2 linked regions of the Homo sapiens genome follow. The protein of the gene in region 1 binds, or shares a complex with, the protein of each later gene. Each region holds a gene or a part of one and is shown on either strand. Other genes may lie near its edges. The genes, in order: IZUMO1 and IZUMO1R. A codon is read from its position in the direction of its gene.

Evidence for each region.
Region 2: the proteins of IZUMO1 (region 1) and IZUMO1R are in contact, whole or in part, in a crystal structure (PDB 5JKC), measured with the Homo sapiens proteins. Residues at the interface, in NP_872381.2 of Homo sapiens: Met75, Val77, Tyr134, Val141 (codon at 455), Leu146 (codon at 470), Trp148 (codon at 476), Lys150 (codon at 482), Asn151 (codon at 485), Lys153 (codon at 491), Glu155 (codon at 497), Val156 (codon at 500), His157 (codon at 503), Ala158 (codon at 506), Arg160 (codon at 512), Lys161 (codon at 515), Ser162 (codon at 518), Tyr163 (codon at 521), Asn239 (codon at 2,150), Ser240 (codon at 2,153), Ser241 (codon at 2,156), Pro242 (codon at 2,159), Ile245 (codon at 2,168); in NP_001186135.1 of Homo sapiens: Lys42 (codon at 5,683), Tyr44 (codon at 5,689), Glu45 (codon at 5,692), Ile48 (codon at 6,439), Leu58 (codon at 6,469), Trp62 (codon at 6,481), His65 (codon at 6,490), Leu66 (codon at 6,493), Asp67 (codon at 6,496), Gly80 (codon at 6,535), Leu81 (codon at 6,538), Leu82 (codon at 6,541), Met83 (codon at 6,544), Pro84 (codon at 6,547), Gly85 (codon at 6,550), Arg87 (codon at 6,556), Ile91 (codon at 6,568), Met145 (codon at 7,172), Ser146 (codon at 7,175), Tyr147 (codon at 7,178), Gln171 (codon at 7,373).

Annotation. Positions count from the first base shown.
Region 1 is NC_000019.10:48,740,135-48,743,977, reverse strand, and holds the end of IZUMO1 (izumo sperm-egg fusion protein 1 isoform 1 precursor), read left to right. Parts: intron 1-452; coding exon 453-533; exon of another isoform or gene 534-570; intron 571-1,668; coding exon 1,669-1,769; intron 1,770-2,005; exon of another isoform or gene 2,006-2,035; coding exon 2,036-2,189; intron 2,190-2,499; coding exon 2,500-2,677; intron 2,678-2,949; coding exon 2,950-3,070; 3' UTR 3,071-3,126; downstream 3,127-3,843. Other genes in the region: RASIP1 (ras-interacting protein 1), read left to right, coding at 3,696-3,832. UniProt on the Homo sapiens protein: Essential sperm cell-surface protein required for fertilization by acting as a ligand for IZUMO1R/JUNO receptor on egg.
Region 2 is NC_000011.10:94,300,078-94,307,727, forward strand, and holds the start of IZUMO1R (sperm-egg fusion protein Juno precursor), read left to right. Parts: upstream 1-4,502; 5' UTR 4,503-4,802; intron 4,803-5,543; exon of another isoform or gene 5,544-5,553; 5' UTR 5,554-5,559; coding exon 5,560-5,697; intron 5,698-6,435; coding exon 6,436-6,645; intron 6,646-7,087; coding exon 7,088-7,223; intron 7,224-7,346; coding exon 7,347-7,615; 3' UTR 7,616-7,650. UniProt on the Homo sapiens protein: Receptor for IZUMO1 present at the cell surface of oocytes (oolemma), which is essential for species-specific gamete recognition and fertilization.

The sequences.
Region 1 (3,843 bases):
ACCCTGTCACCCAGGCTGGAGTGCAGTGGCACGATCACGGCTCACTGCAACCTCCACCTCCCAGGTTCAAACTATTCTCCTGCCTCAGCCCCCTGAGTAGCTGGGATTACAGGTGCCCGCCATCACACCCAGCTAATTTTTGTATTTTTAGCAGAGACGGGGTTTCACCATGTTGGTCAGGCTAGTCTTGAACTCCTGACCTTGTGATCCGCCCGCCTCGGCCTCCCAAAGTGCTGGGATTACAGGAGTAAGCCACCGCATCCGGCCTCTACTTACAATCTTTACTGAGCCTTGTTGGAGCCCACTTACTACTTACCTGCGTCCTGGTCCTGTGCCTTCGTCTGACCATCTAGGAATGTCATAGATGATCTGGCCCCAGCCCTTAGCCCTGACCTCTCCTTTTAGCCATGCCCCTTAGTGGGCAAATACAAGCCTTGACCCTGCCCCTCCAGGTGTGATGTTGCAAACTCTGATCTGGTGCAAGAACTGCAAAAAGGAGGTTCACGCTTGTCGAAAGTCCTACGATTGCGGGGGTGAGAGAACTGGACCCAGCAGGAGGAATTGGTGCAGGTGGGGTGGGGCGAGAGGAGAGGCAGTCTAGAGAGAGCCTAGATGGGGGTGTGGGGGCAGTAGACAAGAAAAGGTAGGGTTTAGGCCAGGTGCAGTGGTTCACACCTATAGTCTCGCACTTCGAGAGGCTGAGACGGGAGGATTGGGAAGCCAGGAGTTTGAGACCAGCCTGGGCAACATAGCGAGACTCTATCTCTACAAAAAAATTTAAAAATTAGTCAGGTGTGGTGTTGCGTTCCTGTAGTCCCAGCTACTTGGAAGGCTGAGGCAGGAGGATTGCTTGGACCCAGGAGTTGGAGACTGCAGTAAGCTATGATCATACCACTGCACTCCAGCCCAGGCAAAAGAGTGAGACCTTGTCTAAAAAGAAAAAAAAGAGGCCGGGCGCGCTGGCTCACGCCTGTAGTCCCAGCACTTTGGGAGGCCGAGGCAGGTGGATCACAAGGTCAGGAGTTCAAGACCAGCCTGGCCAAGATGGTGAAACCATCGTTTTTGTACTAAAAATACAAAAAAATTAGCCAGACATGGTGGTGGGCACCTGTAATCCCAGCTACTCAGGAGGCTGAAGCAGAGAATTGCTTGAACTCAGGAGGCGAAGGTTGTAGTGAGATAAGATCGCGCCACTGCACTCCAGCCTGGGTGACAGAGTGAGACTTCATCTAAAAAAAAAAAAAAAAAAAAAGAGAGAGAGAAAGAAAAGAGAAAAGACGAGGTTACAACAAATGTAAAGGATTAGGGGAGGGTAAAGAACCGTGAAGGAGGCCCGGCGCAGTGCCTCATGCCTGTAATCGCAGCACTTTGGGATGCTGAGGCAGGCAGATCACCTGAGGTCAGGAGTTCCAGACCAGCCTGTCCAATATGGTGAAACCCCATCTCTACTAAAAATACAAAAATTAGCCAGGCGTGGTGGCAAGCGCCTGTAGTCCCAGATACTCAGGAGGCTGAGGCAAGAGAATCGCTTGAACCCAGGAAGCGGAGGTTGCAGTGAGCCGAGATCGCGCCAATGCATTCCAGCCTGGGCGACAGAGCGAGTCTCCATCTCAAAAACAAAAACAAAAACAGAATCATGAGTGTCCCATGGTCATCCCCCACCCCCAGAGCGGAATGTGGAAGTTCCTCAAATGGAAGACATGATCCTGGACTGTGAGTTAAACTGGCATCAGGCTTCGGAAGGCCTCACTGATTACAGCTTTTACAGGGTGAGGGCCTCAACTTCTGTAACCCTTGAACTCCCTAGACTACAATACTTGTGTTCTGGATCTATGGGCCTGCACCCACGATTCTCATGACCCAGGAGGGTGGTCTATTAGGTGTGGTCTCTACAGACCTCTGGGGACCCCGTGCCCTGACCAGTGACACCCTGGACACTCACCTCCCACACTGAGGCCCTGTGATCTTCTCACCCCTGTACTCCCCCAACCCCTGAATTCCTCAGGCCTCAGTGACCCCTTGAGCTTGGGTCTAGGTTTGGGGGAACAATACGGAGACCTTGGTGTCCAAGGGGAAAGAGGCCACCCTGACCAAGCCCATGGTGGGTCCAGAGGATGCAGGCAGCTACCGCTGCGAGCTGGGCTCTGTGAATTCCAGCCCAGCCACGATCATCAATTTTCACGTCACAGGTCAGTGCTGTGGGGCTGAGAGAAGTGTAGGATTCAGGGCCCAGGAAAGCTGGGGTCCGCGGCGGGGGCGTGGCCTTGGCGATGGGGGCGTGACTTCCTGTTGGGTGTGGTTTCGGGGCACGGGGTGTGGCTTCCTGCCGGGGGCGTGGCCTCTGGCCCCGAGGACAGGGGTTCCCTTGGGTGTGTTCAGGCTTGACACTGTTGAAGGCGTGATTATCTCTGGGATGGCCGGCTACTGGGACGGGCTTGTCTTTGCCAGGGCAGGAACTCCACGCCCTGCCAGGACTGCTCTTTACGCTTTCTCTAACAGTGTTGCCCAAAATGATCAAGGAGGAAAAACCTTCTCCAAATATCGTAACCCCGGGGGAGGCGACCACGGAGTCGTCCATAAGCCTCCAGCCTCTGCAGCCCGAGAAAATGCTGGCAAGCCGCCTTCTGGGGCTGCTGATCTGCGGCTCCCTAGCACTGATAACCGGCCTTACCTTTGCGTAAGCAACCCATTGAAGAAGACAGGCTTGGCTTGGAGTAAGGGGCGGGGCTTCCAGGAACCCAACACAGAAGCTGGTCTGGGGGCTACTGAGGCCTGAGAGCAGGACTTTCCTGGGGATGGAGTGCGGGGGGCTTGAATAGGAGGACTTCGAAGGGCGAGGCTTAGGTAATTGCTAGAATAAGGTCACAAAGGGGGAGGTTGGGAGGGGTGTCCCCCACACAATTAGTACCCAAACCGGTTCCATGATCTGCACCCCACTCCCACCCCTAGGATATTTCGTCGAAGGAAGGTGATCGATTTCATCAAATCCTCACTGTTTGGCCTTGGCAGTGGAGCGGCCGAGCAAACCCAGGTCCCAAAAGAAAAGGCCACAGATTCGAGGCAACAATAAAGATTTATCTTGTTGTCTAAGCATCTGACTCACTCCCCGGGACGGGACTGATTCTAGCCTTTGGTTCCCCGAGAGGAGAGGTCTGGGGATGGGCTCCGGCCTGAGGGAGGAAGGGCAGAAAACCGGGACCCTTGGGTCCTGGAGGGGACCAACTGACTGCGATGTAATTCCAGAATCAAGGAATGGGGCAGGGCCAACCCTACCCAGATCTCCTCCCCCAGGCCTGGTCTCCTCACAGGACGCCCCCTCCCCGCTCTTCCTGCCGGGTTTCCTCTTGCCTTTTCCTGTCCCCCACCCAGTGCTGGGAGCCGTGGCAGAGGCAAGAGCAGTGGAACTGACCCAGGCCAGTGGAGCCAGGGCCTCCGGGTGTGCCGGACCCGAAGCAGGGTAAGAGCCAGGGACCCAGCAGCCCAAACCCCTCCTCCCTGGGCCCCAAGACTCAGTCCCCCAGCCATCTTCCATCCCAGGACCCAGGAATCCAGGGTACCATCCCTCTCCTCCCCCTGGACTCGCAAGTCTGAGCCCCAGCCCCCTCCTCCCTCTGACTCGGAGTCCAGGTTCCCTCCACCCCATCCCCACAAGAATGCCTTAGGAGTTGGGGCCTTACCCGCCTTCCCTTAGGGCCATGCTGTCTGGTGAACGGAAGGAGGGCGGAAGCCCCCGCTTCGGGAAGCTTCATCTCCCCGTGGGCCTGTGGATCAATTCCCCCAGGAAGCAGCTGGCGAAGCTGGGGCGGCGCTGGCCCAGCGCAGCCTCTGTCAAGTGAGTGCCAT
Region 2 (7,650 bases), on another chromosome or scaffold:
AACTAAAAGGAGGAAGAATAGAGGAGGGAAGGAAAAGAAAGAGGGGATAGGAAGGAAGAGAGGAGAGGGGAGGGAGGGAGAGGAGAGAGAGAAGGGAAGAGATGGGAAGAAGGATGGGGAGAGGGAGAAAGGAGAGGTCACCTTAAGTTGGAGAGAAAAGGATAGGTGAGCACATGATAAAGGAGAAGAGAGAGAGGAAAGGAAGGAAGGCAGGAGAAAGGGAGAGATGGGATAGGTCAGGTTAAACTAGGGAGGTGTCTGAATTAGTATTCCAGGAAGAGATGCTGGGTGGATTGAAAATGTATCAAGAACAATTGCATATTGTAAAACTGCATACAAACCTCAGTTATGAGCTATTACACTCAGCAGCAGGAAAGAAGAGAGGCAGAAAAGAGAGATGGGATACGTCAGGTTAAACTAGAGAAGGGTCTGAGTTAAAACTATGTTTTTAAGAAATGCAGTTTGGGCCAGGCATGGTGGCTCACACCTGTAATCCCGGCACTTTGGGAAGCCGAGGCAGGTGGATCACTGGAGATCAGGAGTTTGAGACTAGCCTGGCCAACATGGTGAAACCCCATCTCTACTAAAAATACAAAAAGTTAGCTGGGCATGGTGGTGTGCACCTGTAATCCCAGCTACTCGGGAGGGAGGCTGAGGTGGGAGAATCGCTGGAACCCGGGAGGCAGAGGTTGCAGTGAGCCGAGATTGTGTTACTGCATTCCAGCCTAGGCGACAGAGTGAGAGTCTGTCTCAAAAAAAAAAAAGAAAGAAAGAAAAGAAAAGAAATGCAGTTTTATTCTACTCGGGTATTTCTCCTCATTGCAGACAACAAATTGCAGAGTATGCACTCTGGGCCAGGGACTGTGTTTGACCCTGTGACTATTACTGTCTTTCTGGAGCTGCTTACAGAAGAGGCAATGTCGAGCCTGTCTGCAGGCATTCATTTCCAAGGGCAGGAGGTATGTGCAATGACTGCAGCAGCATAAGCTCCAAGAGACATCTCACCAGCCCATGACGGCCATACAAGCTTCCCTGACAGGAAGCCTTCAGTTCTGAGAGCTGAGGGGTATGTATCCCTAGACACAGAGGCTGGGCTATGACAGAACAGCCCTGGAAGTGGGGCCCCTGCAAGCGGCAGGACAATGACAGGCCGTCAGGCCTCAGGAGTGCCCAGAGCATCAATGAGAGCAAGTACAACAGATTAAGATCTAAAAGTAAATAAAAACCACATTTAAAAGGGCTGGTGTGCCATGTTAAGGACCTGGGACTTACCTTAAGGTCTAGAAAGGTTTTAAACATGGGAGCATCATAATTGTCTTTACATTTTTAAAAGATCATTCTGAAAAACAAAGACTGCAAACAAATGTTGAACCCTAGTTAATGATATGCATGTTTGAATTACTTAGGAAGACATCAGTTTACTGATATCTGCAATTTACTTTGAAATACATAAAAAATAATAAGACTGATACCTGAATAGAGAGAAGGATGGTTGGCTAAATATATAATAAAGAAAATATAATAAAATGGTAATGGTGAAATCTAAGTGGTGGGCATATGAGAGAGAGTTCACTATAAAATTATCTCAACTTTATGTTTGAAAACTTTCATAATTAAAATACTGATAAAAGAAACGAAATAATTATATGAAAAATATACCTGCATTCTTATGTTTATTACAGCACTATTCACAATAGTAAAGATTTGGAATCAACCTAAGTGTTCATTAACAGATGAATGGATAAAGTAAATGTGGTAAAATATATACAATGATACACTATTCATCCATATAAAAGAATGAAATCGTATCTTTTGCAGTAACATGGATGGAACTGAAGCCACTATCTTAAGTAAAACAACTCAAACAAAAAGTCAAATACTGCATTTTCTCACTTAAAAGTGGAAGCTAAATAATGTGTACACATGGACATAGAGCATGGAATAATAGATGTTGGAGACTCAGAAGGGCGGGAGGGGGTGAGGTATAAGAAATTACATAATGAGTACAATGTACAAAGCACAGACTTCACCACTGTGCAATATATCCATGTAACCAAACTGCACTTATACCCTTAAATTTATACAAATTTAAAAAAATTCTGAGAAATTAGATCATTATGGCTGCTACTTGATTAAAGCTCTGGAAAAGGGTGGGAGAGCTAGTTAGGAGGTTGTTGCAGTAACTGAGGCAAGAGCCGATCATGGTCCAGACAGTAAGTAAGGGATGTGAATTCAAGAGATATTTAGAAAGTTAAATCAACAGCTTCGGCGATTGGATAGACATAGAGTGAAGAATAAATTAATATCCCTATTTACCTCCCTAGACAGAAACCAATTAAGAGTTTACATGAGGATGGTCAATCAGGTTTGGGGTGAGAAGAATTCATGAGACCCAGTAAGAACTCTGAATCACTGAAGTCCCCTTCGGCTGGCCTCTGACATCAGATTCTCACCAGGAGACTCCTGGCTCTAGCTCTTCACTTTCGTAGTCTGTTCTCAAATTCAGTGGGGGAGTGACCTCAGGATGGGAGAGGGGAAGGAAGTCATCACTGCCCAGCATCTCCAGTGGCCCCAAACCAGAGCCAAGGCTGGGTTGCTTCACCTACTGCCCTGCCCTCCTTGTCCTCCCTCAGAGCCCGCTGAAGGCTGCTGTACCTCTTCTTTTGGAAACGCAAGTGTTGGTTTTGTTGTGTGTGTGTGTGTTTTAGAATAAAAATTGTCTTGAATCAGCCACTTCAAATTGCTTCATCTACAGTCAGCTTTGACTTATCTGCTTTCAGTCAGAAAACAGATTGCTATGGAAGGCTCAGTCACAATAAGGCAAAAATGAGCTTTGCTCAAGGGTCTCAAGCTGCATCTCCCGAGAGCAGATGCTGGCCGGCCTGATGGTTCTCTGAAAGGCAGCCTCACTCACTGGGTAATTCCTTCCTCCCTCCCTCCCTCCCTCCCTCCACCTGCATATGCGCTGGCTGCAATTTTAGCTCATTTCCTACAGCTTTGTCCTGGAGACTGTTATCAAGCAAGCCGCCCTTCGTCCTTCTTCACACCCTATGAAGGACAGTTGTCAGAGGACCTATTTCCATTTCAATAATTACTCTTGTGATTCATGTCTGGATTCTCGGCTCTGGCACCTCCACAGCCATTTTAAACTGAACCTTAAACCCCAAATCTCTTACCTTATCAATGCTTGGAGCTTCCTGAATATTCATGAGGAACTGAACAGAACATGACAGCCTGCTTCTCCCTCTGTCAGGCTATAGAGATGCTATTACCATTTGGTATCTGACCCTAAGGAGGAGACTCCAGGCTCTGCTTAACGTGGGGACATGGGAGACTGGGTTAATAACTGTCACTGTTCTAGAATAAAGCCAACACACGCCTCCCAATACATGCACAACCTCATTATGGCATTTAACGTTAAAAAAAAAAAAAAAGCAGACCTCACTTGAGACCCAGGCACCCAGGCAGTATCTACTCTTTTAGTCCCGGAGGTTTCTCCCTCACCTGGTCCTTAAGCATTAGATAGGGAGTCGAGAATACCTGAAATTATATCCCAGCTCTGCTACTCACCGCTGAGCCTCAGTTCCCCACAGCTAAAACAAGGAGGGTGTTCATATTGGAGGTCTTTTTGAGACCTCAGATCCTGTAGACAGTACCAGGCCAGTGCCTGGCTCCTTGTTTGTGCTCAGCATTCAGTGGCTGTGATTACCCAGGTGTGGAGAATGTCATTTTCCAACATTAGTATATGCTTTACACATCAGTTGTAGCTGAACACCACAGAATGTATTTTATTCCATTAAAAAAACGCTTTTAGTGTTTTGTTTTCATTTCCTTTGTATCAATAAAACTTCAGTGATTTCAGCTACTTCTCTTTCAGAGAGAGAAAGAGAGGACATATTATAAAAACAAAGAAATATGCTCCTTTTCCAGCATTTTTATCATCTTTGGGACTCTCCCAAGAATCCTATCCAAGTTTCCAATCTCTCCTTAGCTGAAAAGGATAGTCTTGCAAATATGATCACTGCTGAGAACACTTGTAGAATATTTCACAGGACAACGATTCCTGTATGCTAAGGGAGGCTGCTTGGCGGGTTATGGAGGGACTTTCTTTGTTTTGTTTGCTTTGGCTTTGTTTGTATGTTTAAATTCTTGGGTCCCCAAGGCCACACTTCATCTCTGCATCCTGTGTCCTCGGTCTGTGCTCCAGCAGGGACCATAGTTCCTGTGGGCTGTGCGAGGACACTGTCAGAAAAGCCACCAGGTGACTGAGCTGATGCTTGGCTAACAGTGAAGGGGCAGGTAGAGCTACGGAACAGAACATAGGAGGGGCGTGTGGAGAGAGGATAAAAGAATAAAATTTAAAACCATTAAGACTTCCTCTATCCCAGGCACAATGCCAAGGTTTTTGTTCATGAACTTTCTCTTTATTTTTCCAATCCCATAATAAAAACTTCCTTTACAGAGAGAGAAACTGACAGAGAATTTGAGTCATTTTCTCCAGGGCAGCCAGCTAGTAAGTAGCAGAGCTGACAGCCGAACCCGGTAACTTATTGTAGAGCCCCGGATCTTGCCTACGATGGGGTCTGTTTCTCTGAGGAAGCAAACTTCCTCGGAACCCACAGGCCTGCAGAGCTGGGTGAGACAGATGCTGTTTAATGAGAGCCACGTGGAGTTCTCCTCCTGCACCTGGACCTAGTAGAAATCAGACTGGGTAATAAATGGGCGGGACATGGAACTCCCCTCAGCCTCATAGTCTCAGGGGGAGGAGGGAGCAGGAGCACCTGAAGGCTCCTGCCTTGAAAGTGAGTATGAAGAGAGTGCTGGAAGGGGCAGCATCTTTCCTCCTTTTACCTAACAGATCTGATTCTTTAAAAATATTCAAGGCCATGGCTGAGCTTGAAACTGGTTGTCTGGAGAGAGAACAGCCTTAGATTTGGACTTGAGGTTGGGCTCTGAAGAGGGGGGCTGGGCTCTTCTTCCCCAGGATGTTTGAGGCTCTTAGACCAGGGTAGGCTAGAAGTTTCCAGTTTCACCATGATGGGTCCAGGTCAGGCTCCTGCCAGACTTGGGGGACTGGGGGAGCCATGGGCTCCTGGGCTATGAAGGTGAGGGGCCCTGTGTCCTAAGAGGTTGGGTGCTTGAGGCCTGGGGCCCCTCTGCCTTTTGCTTTGTTTTGTCTCTCTTTCCACTACCTCTCATTACCACTACTACCCAGAACAGAGTTGGAAATAGGAAGGGCCCTCCTCCTCATTCCTGTGATGGGGATCAGGCTTTGGATGTAGAAGGCTCCTCCTATCTGACTCATGCCTCGGCATGCCCCTGGCTCTGCAGGGCCAGCAAGGCCTCCAGCACTGTGTCAGGCCTCCAAGGATTATTCTACCTGCCCTGACATTCTGTGATGCTGCCTCCAAAAGAAGGTCCTAGGAGCAGCCAGAGTGTTGCAATTATTTGAGGGAGATTGAAGCCCATCCCCCTTTCCCAGTGCCTGCTATGATGAAGGGGGTGGAGTGGGGTGTCATTTCCATCAAGTGTGCAGCATGGGTCTCTCTGTAGCAGGCCATGGCATGCTGGTGGCCGCTCCTGCTAGAGCTGTGGACAGTCATGCCCACCTGGGCTGGGGACGAGCTGCTCAACATCTGCATGAATGCCAAACACCACAAGAGAGTGCCCAGCCCAGAAGACAAGCTCTATGAGGAGGTACAGAGGCCAGACCTGGGTATGGGATGGGGAAGATCAGGGAAGGGACACAAATGCCAAGATGGTCTCCGAACCTCATCAACCCTGATCATTTGGTTCCTGGGGTTAGGAGTTAAGCAAAGGCAACTAGATGGAAAGAGACTATGCCTTTTTGAGACCATAAGAGCCAAGCGATTCAAAGTTCCCATTTCTGAGCTGCTCTAGCCACTGGGAAAGCAGGGACCGCTGGTGATCCCAGAGATCCATTGTTGACTCGGCACAGATGAAAACAAGCCTTCCTGCCAACAGGTCCTGGGGCAACATATGACTTATGTGACCCCTCCCCAAGCTCCTAAAGGCAATTTCCAGGGATATGGGAGGAAGAACACAGCTGGCATTTGGCCTATGAGACCCTCCCACCCAATGCAACCCCAGATTCCCCTGGGTCTCTCTGGGGCTCTTCTACCTGCTTTGCCCTAAAAGGCTTCTGCTGCCTCTCAGGAGCTGAGAGCCCAGAAGTTGTGTTTCTAGAGGACTGTAGCAGCCTGTGGCAGGGGGTCATTGTGCAGGTGCCTCTGCCCTTTGGGTAAATATTGAGAGATTATCAGGGTTCCTCTTATGTAGGGGCTTACTAGCTAAAGGCATCCCACTTGCTCAGGCCTCCTAAGGGACATTTTCATTTCACCACCTTTCTTCCCTAGACACTTGCCGATCCTTGCCCCTTTTGCCTGGGCCTTTTGTTTCTTCCTCTGCCTTCAGTGCATCCCCTGGAAGGACAATGCCTGCTGCACCCTCACGACAAGCTGGGAAGCCCATCTGGATGTATCCCCACTCTACAACTTCAGCCTGTTTCACTGTGGACTGCTGATGCCTGGCTGTCGGAAGCACTTCATCCAGGCTATCTGCTTCTATGAGTGCTCCCCAAACCTGGGGCCCTGGATCCAGCCAGTGGGAAGCCTGGGGTGGGAGGTAGGAAGCAGATCTGTGCCATGCCCTGTTATTATATTAACAGCCAGAGCTTTCACCCGATCTTATGCTGATGCCGCCAGGATGCTAGTAGGAACAGGAGGTGTTATTTCCCTATGGACAAGAGCAGAGCCAGAGGCCCCTGCTGGAGAATCACATGGGGGAGACTGTTCTGACAACAGTGGGATGAGGGGCTATCACCACAGGAGGCTTGGTGGAGTTGACAGACCTGAGCTTCAGTCTCATGTTCTGTCCCTACCAGCTGTATAGCCCAGGACAAACTATTAAATCTCTTAGCCTCATTGGTATTATTTGTAAAATAACACTTAGAGGCTTTATGGAAGATGATGTACATATGGTACCTGGTACAAATACCACTGTAGCTATTAGTAGTCTTCACATCTCTGCTATTAATGTTCTAATCTCTGGCTATGACTGCACCCAGGTGGCCCCGAGTGGGCAGGGAGAGCGAGTTGTGAATGTGCCGCTGTGCCAGGAGGACTGTGAGGAGTGGTGGGAAGACTGTCGCATGTCTTACACATGCAAATCCAACTGGCGTGGTGGCTGGGACTGGAGTCAGGGTGAGTGGTGCTGACAAGGCCTTGGTCGGGAAGAGGCCCCTTGGTGGTCCCCACAAGGGTGCAGGTGCAAAGGCTAGCAATGAGGGAGTAGGAGGTAAGCTGTCCCTCCTCCATCCCCTGCAGGGAAGAACCGCTGCCCCAAAGGGGCCCAGTGCCTCCCTTTCTCCCATTACTTCCCCACCCCAGCTGACCTGTGTGAGAAGACTTGGAGCAATTCCTTCAAAGCCAGCCCTGAGCGACGGAACAGTGGGCGGTGTCTCCAGAAGTGGTTTGAGCCTGCTCAGGGCAACCCCAATGTGGCCGTGGCCCGCCTCTTCGCCAGCTCTGCCCCATCCTGGGAACTGTCCTACACCATCATGGTCTGCTCCCTGTTCCTGCCGTTCCTTTCCTGAGAGCCCTTCTTCTCCCACTCACATTCCTGCATGTC